2 separate regions of the Homo sapiens genome follow, and region 1 is linked to region 2. Evidence: fine-mapped expression QTL. A gene starts in region 2. The other region holds a variant in brackets. All regions are shown on one strand. Distances are from middle to middle.

Region 1 (2,922 bases), 150 kb before region 2:
CTAAATTTTTCTGGCCATTTCTGGAATGGTGTATTATGTATGCATGTGTGCGTGCCCGTGTGCATGTGTGTAAGACACACAGGAAGCAATGGCATGCCCATAGCAAAGCTGATTAGATGCTATTATAGCTGTTGCCTCTTTACCTCAGGAAGGTTTTTGTTGTTATTGATATTGTCCATTTGTTGTTATCAATTCCAGCAGTTTCACTTTTACTTTATTCTGCTTAAAAAGATATGTATTTCCCTTACAATTTTGGTTTATCCAACATTTCTTAACAACCTCTTTGGTGTATACAGGCATTCATTCCTTAATTCAATCATTCAACATATAAACTGGAACAAATAAACCTTAAAAATCTATTAAGGGCTCAGGAAATATATATGTATATATTCAGAAAACAGAGTTCATGCAGAATAGTTTCCTTCCTTCAATTCCCAAATGTCTGAATTAAACCCGTTTCTATTCTTCACTCTAACATTTATTGGTATTTAGTGCTAGACCCTAGCACTATGTTCTGGGCACTGCGGAACTAAGAGTGAAGAAGATAGCAAACCCCTTGCTCTCAGGTGTATATATTCTGTTGGAAAAAGAAAGAATAAACAAACAAGAAGGTAAAAATTCTATAATTAATAATTAAATGAGTTGATGTGAGAGAATGTAACAGGACTTACTTTAAACTGAGTTGTCCAGGAAGATTCATTAAGGAGGTAAAATTTATGCTGAGACCTCAATGACAAGAGGGAGCCAAACATGCCCAGGGAAAGAGCCAGGGAAACAGACACAGAAAAAAACTAAGGTAAAGGACCTGAGATGGATCTGAGTGTGCCTTGTTCCAAAAACAGAGAAGACAGTGGGGTAGACTACAGTGCACAAAGTGAAAAATGGTACAAGAATTTTGAATATATATGAAGCTCGAGATGCCTGTTGGATACCCAAGAGGAGGTATCAAATAGGCAAGTGCCTCTCAAAGTTAATCTGCATATGAGTCACGTAAGGATCTTGTTTAAAATGCAAACTGTGATGCAATGGGTATGGAGTGAAGGCTCAGATTCTATTTCTCAAAAGGTCCCAGGGGATTATCCTGCTGGTCTTGGACCACATGTTGAGTTGCAAGAATGAAGGCAACTGTGCATTTGTGAGTCTGCAGTCAAACATAAGAAGGAAGAGGCCAAAAGATAAATAAGGTGGAGAAAATAAAACCAGAAAAGAAACTCTCTTAAACTATCAAAGGGATTTAGATGGTTTGTGTGGAGAAAGGATACCAAATACCTACAACAAGCTTTCTCATACTAAATGTGATTCAGTAGCATCAAGGTATTCATGGAAGTGACTCAGTACACTGATATGGATGCTATGTAACTGTGCTGTAGACTGTACTTGGAGTTTCTGACTACTTGCTCTGTCTTTCAAAGTCCATGGTTTTCATTTCAAAACAGCAATGCTTTCCCATCATCCCCTTAGTTGTTACTATGGGCAGTTTGTAACAAGAGATGCTTTTCCAAATATCTGAAATTAGGAACAGCATAGCATTGTAAGAGATAGGAAGTCAGTCTCCTCAGAATATGGGGTACGTATCCAGTTGTACACGCTAATTGCAGGTGTCCCATTACTGCCAGTGTGCAGGGTCATGTGCTTCGTGAAGAGAGATGCACAGGGAGATGTAACTGAAAAAGATTCATAACCAGCTTTGATTTTTGTCTGCTCCCTGCATTTCCCCCAACCCACAAACATTAAGCCCAAAACAGAGAATTGCTCTCAGTATTCCTGCTCCAGAACCATGCAACATAATCAGTACTTCTTACTTTCTTGAATTTATTTTTATTTCAATGGTTTTAATGAATATTTCC[T/G]AGAAAGTTCACAATACTCATTTTTATGTTTCAATTTATATTCAAATTTACTCAAAGATAATATCACCCGGTATTATTAGAGAAGTCTCTCTAAATACTAGAACTGACATTTCAGATCCATTTGTAATAATACTGCCCCCATAAAATATGCATAGGTTACAGAAGTTTATCTTGAATAGTCCTCCTGCTCCTCATCCCTGACTTTGATATATTACATCTTGCAATTTCTGGCAATCAATTCTAAGACAATAGACAAAATTTCAGCCACTTCAACTTCTAAAATAACCACTAAAAAATACACCAAAAAATAATGTGGGTAAGCAAAGCACCATGAATAAAAGGAAAATGGGTATTTCATTAACCTAAAATTATCTTAATATTCTTAGGATCACAATATTTCCTTGGGCAATTTGAAAGTGATCTGAAAATTATAAAGGTAGATTATGATACATGTATCAACCTATTCTTATCACTGCAATTTAGACATCAGGACAAAAAAAAATAGCTTACAATTTCTCAATAGTTGAGTAACACCATGCTGGTTTTTACTATAACTGATGACAGGTAAAGTGTGGTAAACTGGATGCATGTAACAAACATGGGAGGTCGTAATATGTTTCCAGGATATGGCATCTTGCCATTGGCCACAGCCTCTTGGAACCAGATAAAGTCACTGAAATAGTTAACAGATGTTAGCCATACTTGAAATATAAAAGTTCTATTGCTAAAATTATGTAGGGTCAGATGGAGATTTGGCTTTTGGTCCATAACATAACTGACTTGGCAAATGAGTAGTTGAGATCCAGAGGCATAATGTATAATATTGAGGCCACACACTCTGCATACTATGCAGGAGCTCATAAACTACTGACAATATGTACACAGTGTTAAGCCTGCTTGATTAAGTATTAACACAGTATTTGATACTTGGGGAAATACGAAGTCAATTTTCCCATCTACTAAATTAAAAAGTTATTTCTATGAGAGCAAAAGAAACTTTTTTCCAAGTTCAAAATTATGACAAGTTTTATTATTTATCCTCAGCTTGCAATTTACCTGATGACTGATATTGCAT
Region 2 (2,922 bases):
TTTATATTAGAATAGTTGATTTAAATCCACATGGTACAATTATGCTTAATGACTAAAATATTACAATAACAGAAGTTATTTTGTTCACTAGTCGAATCAGAAATAATCTTGTATCCAGCACCTGTAATTTAACAAGAAGTCCTCACAGTGCTCCTCCTTTATTCCATGTTTCAACATTTTCATAACAATTATCAGTTATTTAATATTTTGTGGAATTTTAGATTTTCAAGTTTTTTAAGGAAAAAGTTAATTTCTTTATACACCTTTTCTTTATTTATCTGACACTGGTTAAGAGTGCATTAAATCATAAGTATATGAATAATATTAAGTTGCCTATTGTCTTAACATGCCCTTTCAGGAACAATGTGGGAATAAATTTTAGTCTGAAATTGCTGTTATTTACACTTTCTTTCAAGTTTGTTGAAGCACAAATACATTTGGGATAATTAATGTTCTGATGGATTATTTCATCCTACTATGTCTTCTTAACCTTCTACCGGTTTCATTCCTTTTTCTGCCTCACATTGTGACAAATTTGTAGTCTTTGTTACACAGTACAAGGAGCACTGAGAATAAGGGCGGTATCCTTGAAGGAATACCTATGAATACAAATTGTATTACGTAATGCATCCCTTTCCAGGAAAACACAGAGAAGGAATTCTTTTCTTTAGGCGACCAGCAAATGGTCACAGGCAGGGATTTTGCAGGGTCTGATCTGTAGAGGCGGGTCGATACATTCACCGAAGAGAGATAACGGGAAACCGTTTAAGGGGTGCGGCCTAACACGACAGAACTGCTGCGGGAAGGGTCCTGGGGTGAGGAGGTGACATAAAGGGAGGAGGGCACCAAGAGGTTGCAGGGAGAGAGGCTGGCTGTCAGTGTGCGCATGAGGGTGGGGACACCCTGGGCCGCGAGGTGGTACCTGCGCGGGGTCGAGCGCCCCTGCCACTGAATCCCCGATCCAGAGATGCTCCCGGAGAAGCTGCTGGTAGCTGAGGCAGTGCTTCACCGCGGATGGCACATTCCCCATGGCGGAGCCTGGGGCGGCAGTCGGCGAGGGGAGGGAGACTGGAGGAGGATGAGGGGCGGGCACCGCGCTGGGAAACTGCGCCAGCTCGGGAGCGCGCCCCTCCGGTGCACTGGCTGTGAGGACCAGAGCTGTTCTGCGCACTGCGGCGGCGCCGAGAGGGCGGGGAGTGGGGCGTGGCAGGTGGCCGCGCCTGGGGCAGCGGGTGCACGGGGCACCTGCGGGAATCGACAGAAATGCCGAGCACCTGAACAGGAGAGAAAGGAGCTGAGCCAGAGGATGTCCAGGGGTGTCTCATTTTCCGCACTACACTGAGCGCCCAGGGCTGACTGTATCTTAACGTGCCCACCTACTTCTCACCTGGCATAGATCAGGTGTAGAAGAAAAGGGGTCTAAAATAAAAGGAAGGGGCGTGAGTGTTTATGTTGATGAGTTCGTTCATTCCCAGCTGCAGCCTTGGGTGCTCAAGTGTAGATTTGCCTACCGTTGAGCTCACGGAGTTTATGCTTTATAACAATAAGCTCTATTTAAAAATGTTTTTGAGGCAATCAGCAAGGTTAAAACATATCCAACAGTCTAATGAAAAGGAAAAGATAGTCTTAAATTAGGTTACATGTCAGAGGTACTCTCAGAGGTACGTTCCTAAATGAGAGGTAAGCTGTAAGTTGGTGCTGCGGTTAAGCGCTGAAATGGAACTGCGTGTTTAAAAGTCTCATGGCACAAAATTATTAAAGCCCTAAGGACTAGATTTATCCAAACGGAAAATTCTATACAAGTTCTTAGGATATTAGAATTGGAGACATTTTTAGTGGAAGAGAGGGTTTGAAAAAATAGCCTTCGAGCAGACCACCGGCCTACCTTCCCCCCCTCACTTTCACATGTAAACTTACGTGTATTGTCACACCCTAATAATCTTCGCAGTGGGTTCAGTGGTTTGCAGCTAAAATGACATAGTCATCAAGAATAGTCTCGTGCAGGATACCTAGGGTCTTCCGGAGACCCAGCCAGGGTGTCCATGGCCAGGAATACGCATCAGCCCTGGTGGCTGATGGAGCAAATGTAAACCAGGAGCCAACCGATGCACACCGTAGTATAAACACACAGAAGAAATTTACCATTCAAAGTCAAACCATCCTTACCACTTGTGTGTTGCATGGGTGGGGGTTTGGGGGGTGGGCAGTGAGACTTCCACAGGTAATAAAAATAAATGGGTTAAGGGAGGAAAAAGACAAAGAGTGGAAGAGAAATCGTGTAGATCCTTCGGTAAAACTGCACTAGAAAGGGCAAAGAGGATGAGGAGGTCATAGTCTTCTTCTCACAGTTAACCAAGGATTTTTTTTTTCTTTTTTCTTTCTTTTTTTTTTTTTTTTTTTTTTTTTTTGAGACGGAGTCTCGCTCTGTCGCCCAGGCTGGAGTGCAGTGGCGCGATGTCGGCTCACTGAAAGCTTCTCCCCCCAGGTTCACGCCATTCTCCTGCCTCGGCCTCCCCAGCTGCTGGGACTACAGGCGCCGGCCGCCACGCCAGGCTAATTTTTTGTATTTTTAGTAGAGACGGGGTTTCACCGCGTTAGCCAGGATGGTCTCGATCTCCTGACCTCGTGGTCTGACCTCCTCGGCCTCCCAAAGTGCTGGGATTACAGGGGTCAGCCACCGCGCCCAGCCGGATGTTTAACCTGGAGAACATTCCCTGAACTGCTAAAGTGAAGTTATCCAATTCCTGGATGCGCTTAAAACTCTGTAAAGCACCAAAACTCCGGTTGTTATTTACCTAAGCATGACTATCATATAGGTGTACATTCATAGAGCTAAATCTATTAGCTGTACCAGCAGAGCTCAGCTGTTAGTTATTGTTCCACTGCAAGTGAAATGGACGGTACTGGTTATATCTATGCTTA

What was found. PIP is the estimated chance that this variant, and not a neighbour inherited with it, causes the effect.
Region 1: its variant is fine-mapped to the expression of HMGCLL1 in prefrontal cortex (BrainSeq, PIP 0.95). The same link has a PIP of 0.9 or more in cerebellar hemisphere and cerebral cortex.

The regions. Positions count from the first base shown.
Region 1 is chr6:55,432,575-55,435,496 of GRCh38, forward strand. It overlaps HMGCLL1 (3-hydroxy-3-methylglutaryl-CoA lyase like 1), which reads right to left. Exons shown (of 9, transcript NM_001042406.2): 9 at 1,799-2,922. Among named protein-coding and RNA genes, the nearest start is that of GFRAL, 110 kb to the left of the region's middle. The variant T/G (reference allele first, on the strand shown) is at 1,848.
Region 2 is chr6:55,578,026-55,580,947 of GRCh38, forward strand. It overlaps HMGCLL1 (3-hydroxy-3-methylglutaryl-CoA lyase like 1), which reads right to left and starts at 1,167. Exons shown (of 9, transcript NM_001042406.2): 1 at 923-1,167. The coding sequence starts at 1,030.